Homo sapiens: one gene and its partners. The protein of the gene in region 4 interacts with the protein of the main gene of each other region in a pairwise test. Each region holds a gene or a part of one and is shown on either strand. Other genes may lie near its edges.

Region 1 (3,500 bases), on a different chromosome or scaffold from region 4:
CTCTAGTAATAATACAAAAATTAGCCGGGTGTGGTGGTCGACACCTGTAATCCCAGCTGCTCGGGAGGCTGAAGCAGGAGAATTGCTTGAACCCGGGAGGTGGAGGTTGCAGTGAGCTGAGATCGTGCCACTGCACTCCAGCCTGGGTGACAGAGCAAGACTCCATCTCAAAAAAAAGGCTGGGCACACAGTGGCTCACGCCTGTAATCCCAGCACTTTGGGAGGCTGAGGCGGGTGGATCGCCTGAGGTCAGGAGTTCGAGACCAGCCTGACTAACATGGAGAAAACCCCGTATCTACTAAAAGTACAAAATTAGCCAGGCATGGTGGTGCATGCCTGTAATCCCAGCTACTCAGGAGGCTGAGGCAGGAGAATCACTTGAACCTGGGAGGTGGAGGTTGTGGTGAGCCAAGATCGTGCCATTGCACTCCAGCCTGGGCAACAAGAGCGAAACTCCATCTCAAAAAAAAAAAAAAAAAAGACCAGCCTGGGCAACATATCAAGACTCCATCTCTATAAAAAATGAAAAAATAATTAGCTGAATATAGTGGCGCATGCCTGTACTCCCAGCTGCTGGGGAGACTGGTTGAGGTGGGAGGATAGCTTGAGCCCAGGAGGTCAGGCTACAGTGAGCCATGATTAGGTCACTGCACTCCAGCCTGGGTAACAGAGTGAGACCCTGTCTCAAAAATAATTAATTTTAAAAATGAAAAAATATATACATCTAGGTTTGTGTAAGGATGCTTTACGATACTCGCACAATGACAAGATCACCTAACCCTGTGTTTCTCAGAACTTACCCCCATTGTTAAGTGACTGACATTCTACTGATTGTGTATACAGTAGCTTACTTCAGAATTCCTCGTGTTCTGTTCAGTGCTTTAGATTGCTTTCACATATGCTTTAGTGGGAATCTTTGTGCATTGTCCCTTTTTCTGTAGTTAGGGTTATTTAGTCTGATTTTCATTAGAAGGATAGTAGTCTAGGTCATTATCAAGAAACCACTGTACTTTGTTTTCATCTGATTGTTAATACATTACTTTGGGTCTTTGATGTTTATTTATTTAGGCCTTCTTAGATGTTCAGTAAGGCATGTAGTGGATTATACTGAGAACAGTTGACGTGTAAGTTGAGCTTAACCCTATTCTTTTCTCTAGGATGTTTTAGAAGAATGTATGTCTCTTCCCAAGCTATCTTCTTATTCTGGATGGGTGGTAGAGCACGTCCTACCCCATATGCAGGAGAACCAACCTCTGTCTGAGACTTCGCCATCCTCTACGTCAGCTTCAGCCCTAGATCAACCCTCATTTGTTCCCAAATCTCCTGACGCAAGCTCTGCCTTTTCCCCAGCCTCCCCTGCAACACCAAATGGAACCAAGGTAAGGTTGTGATCAGCTTAAGACAAAAGACATGGTGGCTGCAAAGTCAAAATGTTTAATATTGTCATATGACAGTGACCATACCCTAGGGGAAATAATGATTGCTCATTGTTGTAGCTGTTGTAGAGACAATGTTGACAGCACCATTCAGTGTTCTCTTTAGACAGATCCAGAGGGAGAAAAATCCCCTCTATTCTTAGTACCGAGAATAGTATAACTAATTTCATGAGCAATTGGATTTTTTTTTTTTTCTGATGAACGCTGCGTCTGTTTAACTGATATGGTCTCCCTTTTTGTGTTATCTGCTGGAAGAAGGCTTAGAGTGAAATGTATACCTTCTCTTTAAGTTTACATGCCTTCTCTCATTGGTTCTGTAGGAGATTTTACCCTATTCCTGGCTCTGTTTTGTCCCTGCCTCTGTTTTTTTGTTATTTCTCCCACTTAAAAATGCTAAACTGGGGCCATTTCCTCTCAGAAGACCCCTCTCTCTCACTAGAGAGAGAACTATTTTCCTTTCTCTTTCTCTTGCCTATTAAACCTCCACTCCTAAACGCAAAAAAAAAAAAAAAAGTTAAATTGGACCCAACACAGTGGCTCATGTCCATAATTCCAGTGCTTTGGAAGGCCAAGACAAGAGGATTGCTTGAGCCCAGGAGTTCAAGACCAGCCTGGGCAACATAGTGAGACCTTGTCTCTCCAAAATACTTAAAAATTGGCTAGGCATGGTGGCTCGAGCTTGTTGTCCTAGCTACTTGGGACATTGAGATGGGAGGATCACTTGAGCCCAGGAGTTTGAGACTACAGTGAGCTGTGATCAAGCCATTACATTCCAGCCTAGGCAACAGAGTGAGTCCCTATCTCAAAAAAAAGTTAAATTTTGGAAGTTTTTTAAAATTACTTTTTATATACTTCTAGAGGTAGTTTGTGTATATACAAATATACGTGAACATGTCTTCTTCTTCACCCTCCCTTTTTTTTGAGCTGAGGTCTGTCTCTGTCAACCAGGATGGAGTGCAGTGGCATGAACATGGCTCACTGCAGCCTCCACCTCCCAGGCTCAATCCACCCTCCTGTCTCAGCCTCCCGAATAGCTGGGACTGCGTGTGGACACCACCATACTTGGCTATTTTCTTTTTCTTTTTTTTTTTTGAGACGGAGTCTTGCTCTGTCCCCCAGGCTGGAGTGCAGTGACGCAATTTCAGCTCACTGCAACTTCCGCCTCCCGGCTTCAAGCGATTCTCCCACCTCAGCCTCCTGAGCGGCTGGGATTACAGGCACCCACTATCACGCCCGGCTTATGTTTGTATTTTTAGTGGAGATGGTGTTTCACCATATTGGCCTGGCTGTTCTCAAACTCCTGACCTTATGATCTGCCCACCTCGGCCTCCCAAAGTGCTGGGATTACAGGTGTGAACCACCACACCCAGGCTTTTTTTTTTTTTTTTTTTTAAGATGGAGTCTAGCTCTGTCACCCAGGCTGGAGTACAGTGGCATGGTCTCGGCTTACTGCAACCTTTGCCTCCTGGGTTCACGCGGTTCTTCTGCCTCAGCCTCCCAAGTAGCTGAGATTACAGGTGTGCGCCACCATGCCTGGCTAATTTTTGTATTCTTAGTAGAGACAGGATTTTGCCATGTTGTCCAGTCTGGTCTCAAACTACTGACCTCAGATGATCTACCCACCTCGGCCTCCCAAAGTGCTGGGATTATAGTCGTGAGCCACTGTGCCTGGCCAGTTTTTTTTTTTTTTTTCTTTTTTACATAGAAAGTATTTTTTTTCTATCTAGTAGTTCATCTTTTAAAATATTAGTCTTTAAAAAATATTCTTTGTGGCCACGTGTGGTGGCTCACACGTGTAATCCCAGCACTTTGGGAGGCTGAGGCAGGTGGATCACTTGAGATCAGTAGTTCGAGAGCAGCTTGACCACAGTGAAACCCTGTCTCTACTAAAAATACAAAATTAGCTGGGCGTCGTGGCGCACGCCTGTAATCCCATCTACTTGGGAGGCTGAGGCACTAGAATTGCTTGAACCCGGGAGACGGAGGTTGCAGTGAGCTGAGATCATGCCATTGTACTCTAGCCTGGGTAACGGAGCAAGACTCAGTCTCAAAATATATGTATAT
Region 2 (3,500 bases), on a different chromosome or scaffold from region 4:
CACGTCTTTTCACCAAGCTAGCAGACCCTCGGGGGTGGAAGCGTACGGGAGGATGTTAGAAACGCTTGGACACCAAAGGCCCACCAGAACCTGAGCTCCGTGAAGTCCAGACGCGGGAGAGAAGCCCCAGCTGCCTGTACGTCTGAGGTTGCTGGTCCTGGAATTCCCTTGGAATTCCCTTGTGGCCCCGACACCCTGAGTACCAGCTCTCCCAGGGTCCCCTTGGAGAGAACCACCCAGGCCTCCCTGCAAGCAAACGTCTCGGTGCGTGTGGCCTTTGTGCCAGTCAGCAGGCTTCTCCTGCCCTGTGGAACTGGGACCTCAGAATCTCAGAAGGGCCCGCATGGCTGCCATGGCCAGTGTCAGATGCAGCCCAGCAGAGAGGCCCTGGAACTCAGAGGACTCCCAAAGTCCGTGAGCACAGTGTCCTCAACAAAACCCCCCCTCACCACACCTTCCTCAACAAACCCCTCACGCCAACTGGCTCTGGAGGACTGTGTCCAATTGCGAGCTGCCTTGGATTTAGGTTATGGTCCTGAATGCTGCTGCCACCACCTCCCTGAAGTGGCTCACAAGTCCTCAGCCTCCGCCGGAGCCCCAAGTGCCAGACTCCCCCTTCAGCCGCACAGCCTGGGCACTCGGACCAAGCTGCCACCTTCCCTGTGCTTGCCGGGGCCAGGTAGGACACGTCTCACAACAGAGCCTTTTCCGGGGGCGCCCTTCTGCAGTGATTCTTGCAGTCCTGCACTCTGCTGTGTTCTGCTCACACCAGGCAGGGGGAGAGGGAGCGTGGCCCCTCTGGGAAGCTCCCAGGACGGCAGGGGTGGGTGCTGCCCTACAGATACAGTACCTGCTGCACAGGGAATGGACGCCTCCTGGACGGTGGCCCCAGCCCAGGAATGGCTGGGACACCCACTCCAGTCTTGCCCACAGTCTGCTTCCAGAGGACACTTGCCCCTGCCTCTCCCCACCCCCACCACGCCCTGCATCTCGCAGCCACCTGGAAGGAGATGTAGACCCCACTGTGGTAAGGAGCTGTTCAGAGCCCCCGGAGCCCTCCACTTCCTACCACGCAGACATCCTGCTGCTGTGCGACACAGATGGACCAGGGCTTGTCCTGAAGGTCCCAGGATGCACATTCCTCAGGGATGGCTACTCTCCTCCCCCTCCCTGTTAACAGACTGGTTTTCCATGGACTCCTTTAAGCCCCCAAGTCTGGCCTCTGGTCAAATTTCAAAGACATGATGGGGTGGTCTGTTAAGACTGAGTAGCTCATGTGGCACCAGGTGAGGGCTGCTCAGGCCTGCATTAAGGAGGGGAGCCCGAACAACGGGCCTCCCCCTTCCCCCCACCCACAACGAAGCAGCTGCTGCTGGCTCCTCTCCCAGAGACTGGAAGAGAATTGATGAGAACACCGGGGACCCAGCAGTTCCACTCCCAGGCCTAAATCTAAGAGGGCAAAGTCAAGCCTCCACTCAAAACCTTGTGTGTGCACACACTCCCGGCAGCAGGATTCACAACAGCCACGGAGTGGAAGCAGAGCCAGCTGTCCAGTGGAGGATGAACACACAGCGGGGAAGACATGGGCCGTGCAACCGCGGCTGCCACAGAGAAAGCGCAGGAGCAGTGCATGCTGCGTGAGAAGCTGGGCACCAGGCAGAAAGCAGAGTCCGGGAGCTGGGGGAGGAGGGGACAGCAAGTGCCTGCTCAATGGCCCTGAGGTTTAAGGTGATGGAGCTGATCTAGATAGAATTGGGGGTGATGGCTGTATAACTGGGAATACACTAAAATCCCTGACTTGTACACTGTGGCCACCTGAAGTGAACAGTACACGCTTTCTGTCTCAGTAAAGCTACGCAAAGAACAGCAGACATCCCGCATGAAGTCAGCTCTCCAGGGCCGCACCATGGGAGCTATGGGCTGGCAGTGGCCGGCTCTGCTCTTGACACACAGGAAGGATGCAAACTCAGAGCCCCAGTGGGGTCACGGCCTTGCCCGGAGAACTCCCTCTGGGGATGGCAGCCTGCCGTCCCCTTGCCTAGCCTGGATGCCACATCCCGCGGCAGCGAAGCAGCCTCCTGCTTGACCGTCTGGCCCGGGGACCCTTTTGTCTCCTGGGTCAGTTTCATTCTTTCCCCAGGCTGTGCTCCTGATGAAGCAGCATCGTAGCTGATGTTGAAGGGCCTCACGCCAGCACCTAGGCTGGTCTTCCCTGGGTGCCTGCTTGAGCACGTGGCCCAAAACAGCCGTTGCATGGGGCACTCAGAACCCACCACACCCTCGCCCCTTCCCAGCCCGCCACCCTGTGGCTGAGGCCCTGTGCCTTGAGCAAGCTGCTGCCCCTCCTCCTCCTGGTCCAGTTCTGCCCACACCTGGGTGCCCACCTCCCCTCCCTGTGGTCTCCAGGAGCTGCCCCCAACATGCCCTGGGCAGCAGTGCTCATCGTAGCCCCGTCTGTGGCCTGGACAGGCTCTGACCACTCCTGCGTTGGCACAGCTTCCTCGGGAGGCTCCTGCCAACACCACTCGGCACGGTGGGCTCAACACGGCAGCGGCAACGGGTGGGAGTACTTGCCTCTGCCTGGCCCGAATGGCGGTTTTCCATTTGGATTTGGGGATGAGCAGCCAATGAGCCTATCTCATTCCCGTTAACGTGAGAGAAACATCCAGACGCTATCCTCAGGTCTCACACACCCCCGCCGTGCTCTGCACCACACCTGGCAGGGGCACCCCCGACTGTATGCTGGGCATCAGCTCCCAGGCCCGAGCGCCTCACCTCACACTGGGGATTGGAGCCCTCAGGCCCTAGAGACACTGGCTTGAGAAACTTTTGAGATGGAGTCTCGCTCTGTTGCCCAGGCTGGAGTGCAGTGGCATGATCTCAGTTCACAGCAGCCTCTGCCTCCTGCGGGTTCTGGAAATTCTTGTGCCTCAGCCTCCTGAGTAGCTGGAATTACAGGCGTGTGCCACCATGCCCGGCTAATTTTTGTATTTTTAAGTGGAGACAGGATTTCACCCTGGTGGCCAGGCTGGTCTCGAACTGATAACCTCAGGTGATCCACCTGCCTCGGCCTCTCAAAGTGCTGGGATTATAGGTGTGAGCCACCGTGCCTGGCCAAGAAACTTTTTAAAGAAAAAGTTTGCTCAACAGATAAGCTGAACCCCAGTCAGCAAAGGGCTTTGTAAACTGTCCTTGGGATGCAGCTCAGAGAGGAGGGTCCTCAGAGGGTGAGGTGCTGCCTAGGGGGCACCTGCAGCCACAGCAGCACCAGGCCCACACCCTCCGCAACCTCCCAGCCTATCAGGGACCTGAGGCGCAGATGGAAGTGGAGTTGTGGACACAGCAAGGGCCTCCACTCAGCCAGAGAGAAAGCAAGCTGCCCTGAGCCCAGCTTTCCGTGGCATCGTGGCCTCAGGCAGGTGTATTGTGAGTCTTGGGCCCCATGACAACTTGGTTGGGCCGGGCCAGCCTGCAGGGGGCAGAGAACAGCCAAGGGCCCA
Region 3 (3,500 bases), on a different chromosome or scaffold from region 4:
CTTTTTTACTGCTGAGTAATATTCTAGGGTGTGGAGGTACCAGTTTGTTGAACCACAGATCCACTGAAAGACATCAGAGTTGTTTCCGTGTTCTGCTAATGTGAATAAAACTGCTATAAACATTCATATACAGATTTGTGTGTGTACCTACGTCTTCATTTCTCTAGGATAAATAACTAAGAGTATAACTCTGTCATCTGGTAAATACATATGTCATTTTTTATGAAACTGCTATATTCTTTTCCAGAGTGGTTCTACCATTTTATATTCCCAGTAGCAATTTGCGAGTAATCCAATTTCTCCACATCCTCACCAGCATTTGGTGTTGTCTTTATTTTGTATTTTAATTTACCTACTTTACCTATTACTCTAGATATTTCTTTATACATTCTTAACTTGTCATGCTCTACTGCAGTTGCTATTTTGTAGGTCAAGTTTAGAAATCTTACCTTTCCTTGCATCTGTGTTTATGTTTGCCTGAAATGTTTCTTCTACATGTAGAACTACATTAGACAATGCTATAACTTTTGCTGCAACCCTCTAACATAATTTAGAAAACTCAAGAGGAGAAAAACAGTGCATTGTATTTAACCATATTTTTGCTTACTATGTTTTTCCCTCCTTCCTAGTGTTCCAAAATTCCTTTTTTTGTTGTTTCATTTGTTTAGAAAATTTCTTTAGCCATTCTTTTAGGGTAGGTCTGCTGGTGACAAATTCGCTTAGTTTTTCTTTATCTAAAAAAAAAAGTATTGATTTGTTCTTTCTTCCTGAACGACATTTTCACTGGGTATAATATTACAGGTTGGCAGTTCTTTTCTTTCAGCATTTGAAAAACATTGTGCCACTTCCTTCTAGCCTTCATGGTTTCTGATGAGAAATCCACTGTAATTAGAACAATGTTAGCCCTATAGGGAAGGTGTGATATTTCTCTGGCTTCTTTCAAGATCTAAAATTTGTCTTTAGTTTTAAGAAGTTGAATTACGTTGTGTGTTGGTGTGGGTTTCTTTGGGTTTTTCCTGTTTTAGATTCACTCAGCTTTATAAATCCATCTATAACTTTATGTCTCTTGCAAACTTTGGAAGTTTCCAACACTTATTTCTTTGAGCATTTGCCCACCATTATCTTCTCCTTCCAGGAATCCCCTGACACAAACTTTAAATGCTCTGTTGGAGAACCACAGGTCTCTGAGGCTCTATTCCTTTTTTCTTTTTCCAGCCTACCTTTTCTTTGCCATTTGGACCGTGTCATTTCTATGTTCCAACTTCCAGTTCACTGACTCTTTTCTCTGTTCCTTCCATTCTTATGTCAAACCCATCAGTGAGTGTTTTATTTCAGAAATTTCAAACAAGAGGCTCTCCACTCAGCCTTTACTAGTGTTGGTGGGGACAAGGATAGGGCCGCAGTTTTTCTGTTGCATTTGGCTGGAGTAGACTGGTTATTGTCTAAATGTTTTCTATGTTGCTAGGCAGCCCCTTTCTGAGTCCTCTGGATAAAAAACAGGCCATTGTTGGGGATTTCTTCCTTCCTTCCTTTCTTCCTTTTCCCTTCCCTTCCCCCTTCCTTTACCCCTCCCTTCTCTCTCTCTCTCTCTCTCTCTCTGCCCCTCCCTTCCTCTCTGCTTCTTTTTTCTTCTCTTTTCTTTTTGTCTATATATGTTGACATTTCCTGGTTGCCAGCTTCTTCAGTTCCACATCTGAGGTAACGTAGCAAAAAGAAAACTCAAGAAATTCACCTCTGGATTCTTCCTTGGGTTCTAAAATCCCTACTCTGTCCACATTCTTCTCACTACTTTCAGAATCTTCCTAAGCTTGTACAGCGGACCCTTGAATAACATGGGTTGAAACTGCATGGGTCCATTTATATGCAGATTTTCTTCTGCCTCTGCCACCCCTGAGACAGTGAGACTAACTCCCCCTCTTCCTCTTCCTCTTTAGCCTACTCAACATGAAGACAAAGACAATGAAAATCTTGATGATCCACTTCTACTTAATGAATAGTAAGTATCCTCTCTCCTTTTTGTAATGCTGTTAATGTTTTCTCTAGTTTTTTTATTATAAGCATACAGTACATATTACATATGAAAAATATGTATTAATCAACTGTTCATGGTATCAGTAAGGCTTCCCGTCAATAGCAGACTACTGGTAAAGTGTGAGGGGAGATAAAAGTATACATGAGTTTTGTCTACATAGCGGTTGGCACCCCTAACTCCATGACTCCACGAGTCAACTGTACAATATGCAATGTCTAGGCTTTTTAGTGTAGTTGCTGGGAGGAAGAGGGAAAAGTATGCCTACTCCAGCTTCCCAGAAGCAAAATCTGTGCCAGATCATTCGTTTTCAATGTCTATATTTTTTCCATTTTCCTTTAATTTTTTAAAGTTCTTAAAGTCTTGCCAATAACAAAACTGAACAGATGAGTGTGTAATGAAAATAACTATACTCTAACAGTGCTTCTCTAAGTGGCCTGTGGATATGCTCTCCCAGAACTGAAAATTCTATGAAAATTTTTTAGATGTGACATCAATTCTATTATAATCTTACAAATACCCTTTGCCAGTTAAATAGACAAACTCGCTTTTTAAAATTATGACATTTCATAAGACTGTGGTCTCAAGCTATAGTTCCCCAAAGTACCTGAGGTGAGGCACTAAAACTAATTTCCTCCTCAAAGAAGGTGAAACTAAGTGTGAGAGATACTGCTCAGTATGTGGGGTGACCATTGCCTCAGTTTTCCTAGGACACTCCCAACATATAATTTTGTCCTGGAATAATTATTGACAGGGTCTTCTTTTATACTCACAATATCTCATTTTGCATGATAAGCTAATATATATGTTCATATCACCTATGATAAAGAATACGAAACCAGGAGGAAGACACCCAGCAAGCATAGACACCACCCCAGCCATCTCTTCTTCTCTTCAGGACACCAAGGTGTATATTTAACATTCATTAATGGAAGCATTAAGTAGCTCATATGGAAGGTCCATCTTCTTTTTCTCAGCAGCAACTTATTATTAGATATTTTGTGCTTATACTGTGAAATATAGCACCTGTAATGATAATGGGTAACTAAATGATATTGACTAAATAGTTGTAAACATATGTTCTAAGATTATACAAGAATATCTAGGATGCTAAAATTCTGCCAGTTGTACACTTAAAGAAAACATAGCCATCAATTTGCAATTACATGTGTAACTTCCTAGTCTTTACAGTGAAACTCTTCTATGAACAAAGTTTGCCAACTTCTCGGCACCTAAATCATTTAACTGTGATTTAATAGAAGTTCCATAAGTATGAACCTTTCTTTTTCAGTGTCCTCAGACACAAGTTCTCAACAGCCAGCTAGGCATCTCCAAACACACGTACTCAGCTGGCATCAACTCCCATCATGTTGGAACAATGCAGCATCCTTCCCCCAACCAAACCGGGTCTTCAGACTTCCCATTTCCTTCTATGGCATGACATTTTTCTCTAGTTCCCCACCAATGAAAC
Region 4 (3,500 bases):
CCTAGTCAATCACCTTGTTCTTGTTAAAATATTAATATTTAAAGGAGTCTTATACCTTTAAAAATGAAATTATTTAAAGTATATATCTTATTTTATATTGGCTTATTTTATTTTATAGTACAAATAATGTTTGGTTAATAGTATACATGTAATTTATATGTAAAATATATATTGGATTCTGTGGTCAGAGACTTTACTAATTTAGTGTGTAATCAAAACATTTGGAGATCACTAGATTCTGTGGTGCCTGGGATTTGTGTGGTGTTTCACTTTATGAAATGCTTTTGCAAATGTGTTCCAACTTGAACATCATCAACAGCCTTTTGATGCAGGGAAGTGTCATTATGCCCATTTTGTAGATGAGGCATTATTCTCATTTTATGGAAAGGTAACTGAAAGTCAGAATATTTAGATGACTTGCCCAGGGTCACACAGCTAGTTAATAGTGGCACCTCAGCGCCAGCACAGGTGTTACTACTAGATGGTGCTTTTCCATTTAATCCATTCATTGCCTCTACTGGTCATTCCTTTATACTGGCCATTCCTATTGTTTTGACTTCATGTCCTAATCTATTACTTGTTTTTCAGAGTTCTCAGGTACTTGCTTTTTGTGTTTTTTCTAGCGGTTTTAGTTATAGTCAATGAGAGAGACAACACAAGTAAATTAAGAAAAACTGGGAACAAAAGGATGGATACCAACGAGAAAGACAATATATTAATGATGAAAATAAAAATGGTAGTAGGTGTCTCAGAAGTCAGATAAATGCATTTGATGTGCAAAACATTTCAAAGGAACCAGAGAAATGTAGTTCAGGCAGATAGGTTGTTTGAACATTGGCCTGAGGGAAGGCTAAAGATGAATGTAGAAAATATAGTGGGTGTGTATGATATAGATATAGTTTTGTGCTATAGTAAAGTTGGCATTTATAAGCATAATGAATTAAGAATTGTGACGTTTATTTTGATCATTGTGTGTGCTTTTGATTTTAACAAAACTTTGTATAACAACATGTAGTCTTCTATTTTGATTGTTCTGCCAGTACATATAACAAAATGAACAAAATAGAGGAATTCTGTATAGGAATTAAAAGTTAAATATTACTCATCTGCTAATAGATCTATGGATAAACTAAGTTTAACATATTGAATAAAAATGATTGGGTCAGAAAAGTGACTTAGAAGTGTAGCATGGTTTCAGACGTCATTTTCTAGGTTACAATCACTGCCATAATCCAAGAACATGGAGATGTATTTAACAAAACTAAAATATAGTTTTAATAGGTTTTCATGAAAGTATGTTTTACATACAGCTTCTGTGGCCTTTTTCGTATTATAAATTCAAGGCATGGCTTGATCTTCTAGCCTAGTGGCAACACGTCTGGAAATAACTATGCATCACTAAAACTTTCATAGGGATTTTGTGTGCTTTGAAATATTGCATATATGGTTATAAAATTCCCTTAGTATTTACTGGCATATTAAACAAAAATGGCACTGACAGGCATATTATTGTCTGTGTTAATAATCTACACATGAAACACTCCCTCAGTTCAGCTGAACATAGTTCTTACCTCTAATTGTTCATTAGGCCAGTGATCTGTTGTGCTCTTAGAAGGAAAACCAAAATGGTGCAATTAAAATTTGAACCAATACCTGAAGTAGCTATACTTTTCCTTTTTTATTATTAAATGGAAAGATATTCTGAAATTTATGATAGTTTCAGTGGTTTAGAAGATGTTGGAGAATTATATTGAGCTTATCATAGTTTAAAGAACCCTGGACTGGGAGTCAAATCATTGAGATCTAGTTAACAACAGCTATGTTGTTGATGTGCCACATCTCAGTGGGCAAGTCAGTTACGCTTCTCCTAACAAATGCGAACTGGTCTAGTGTGGCTTGATCACTAATGGTTAAGCTTCTACACATAATTAGCATAAACAAATGATTTATTAAGCTTTAAAGATAGACCTCCAGTGATGTAGTCACATAATCTAGAAAAGCTGGTCAGCACTACATTAAGTTTTAGGGTATCTGGAGGAATCTTCCCAGTCAGCCCATAGAATTTTAAGCCAGTGTAGTCTGTCCACTCTGAGAAGCTGGAGCATCATTAAGGATCCCTTATCTCCATGTGAGCAGCTCTCCTCCGGGTTGCACAGCCATCCTTTATCTTCCTTCTGGTTGTGTAGTAAGTATTCATGTTCCTAAGAATGTGCAGAATGAAGAGATTCAATTTAACAGATGCCTGTTAAACTCTAACTGAATATAAGTAGAAATTCTCTTTAAAAACACACACTGGATTAAACAGTCTTGTCATTTTCTCTTTCATTTCCATCTGACTATGTCCATTGGCATGCTCTGTGTTTGCAGCTGGCCAGCTACACTCTAGAATGCCAGTGTTCCTACCAGCAGAGGTGTGTGCTTACCAAACAGCAGTTATGCTTATTTCTGAAACTTTTTATTACGTTGTGCATATTATTGGAGTTAAATAATTCCAGATTGCACAAGCTAATGAATTATGAGTGTGAAAAGAGAATCATTGTTGCTGTTAAGGCAAAGTAGAATGCAAAAGACTTGATAAAGATAAGCACAGAACAGAAATAGATATTGAATTAGACGTGGCTACAACAACTGAAAGCAAAAAAACCTGTAAAAATATGGAAGGATTATGCACTCACCTTGTTTCATACATGCCTTTAAATCCATGCTGTAACTCAAAGAAAGTGAAACTGTGTCCTTATTTATATAGTGGTGAGTAAAAAATACATAAATAAACTGCAAGCCATAGATGTTGCATTCTAGATGTGTTCATGTATCCATTTTAAATTAGAATGTTTAAAGTATGTATGGTTGTTGTGGTCACCTGCTTTAAGGTGAGTTTCTATTAACTGACCAATTATTGTTCATGATCCTACTAAGAGGGCTTCCTTATACTTGATAGTTGAACATAGTCAATCTACTTAAACCTTTGGAAAACGGTGGTGTTTGCAGCTTGGGCCTGCTTTCCATATGTATTCCTGCAACTTCCTCCAGTGGCCCCTTTACCTGTGTCTTCCCATCTTTCATGTGAGAACCATCATTTCTCCTTTAAGTTTACAGAAAAGTGTCAAATTTAAGTAAGATATGGATATGAAAAAAGTTAGAAATAAATGTGCGTGCTATATACTATAGATACTGTAATCTTATTATTTATAATAGGGAATCTATGACTCATGATTTAAGAAAATGCCCAGCTTAGACTTAGGTTTTATGTACAAAATCGATAACTTTTGCTTTCTTATTTGGCATTTTGAAACACCAGTTTGAGTGATTTCTTTAATTCTGAATAAACTAAACTAAACCTAAACTAGTAAACTAAAAACGATGATGAGTTAACTTCTATGGCTTGGAAGATATTGAAGATGTTAGAGAATTAATTGGTCTCAAGCCCTATGGGTATTAGAGTTTAAAGAACCCTATACCTGGAATCAGACTAGCTGGTCTGGTATCAGCTGTGCTCTTGA

What was found. Proteins that work in one complex are often made in the same cells at the same time.
Region 1: the proteins of ASB3 (region 4) and GLE1 interact in binary tests that used the Homo sapiens proteins (3 or more experiments, as listed by UniProt).
Region 2: the proteins of ASB3 (region 4) and JPH3 interact in binary tests that used the Homo sapiens proteins (3 or more experiments, as listed by UniProt).
Region 3: the proteins of ASB3 (region 4) and PRKN interact in binary tests that used the Homo sapiens proteins (3 or more experiments, as listed by UniProt).

The regions. Positions count from the first base shown.
Region 1 is NC_000009.12:128,507,719-128,511,218, forward strand, and holds part of GLE1 (mRNA export factor GLE1), read left to right. Parts: intron 1-1,157; coding exon 1,158-1,379; intron 1,380-3,500. UniProt on the Homo sapiens protein: Required for the export of mRNAs containing poly(A) tails from the nucleus into the cytoplasm. May be involved in the terminal step of the mRNA transport through the nuclear pore complex (NPC).
Region 2 is NC_000016.10:87,693,008-87,696,507, reverse strand, and holds part of JPH3 (junctophilin-3), read right to left. Parts: intron 1,872-3,500; exon of another isoform or gene 367-1,871; intron 1-366. UniProt on the Homo sapiens protein: Junctophilins contribute to the formation of junctional membrane complexes (JMCs) which link the plasma membrane with the endoplasmic or sarcoplasmic reticulum in excitable cells.
Region 3 is NC_000006.12:162,437,767-162,441,266, forward strand, and holds part of PRKN (E3 ubiquitin-protein ligase parkin), read right to left. Parts: intron 1-3,500. UniProt on the Homo sapiens protein: Functions within a multiprotein E3 ubiquitin ligase complex, catalyzing the covalent attachment of ubiquitin moieties onto substrate proteins. Substrates include SYT11 and VDAC1.
Region 4 is NC_000002.12:53,671,954-53,675,453, reverse strand, and holds part of ASB3 (ankyrin repeat and SOCS box protein 3), read left to right. Parts: intron 1-3,500. UniProt on the Homo sapiens protein: Probable substrate-recognition component of a SCF-like ECS (Elongin-Cullin-SOCS-box protein) E3 ubiquitin-protein ligase complex which mediates the ubiquitination and subsequent proteasomal degradation of target proteins. Recognizes TNFRSF1B.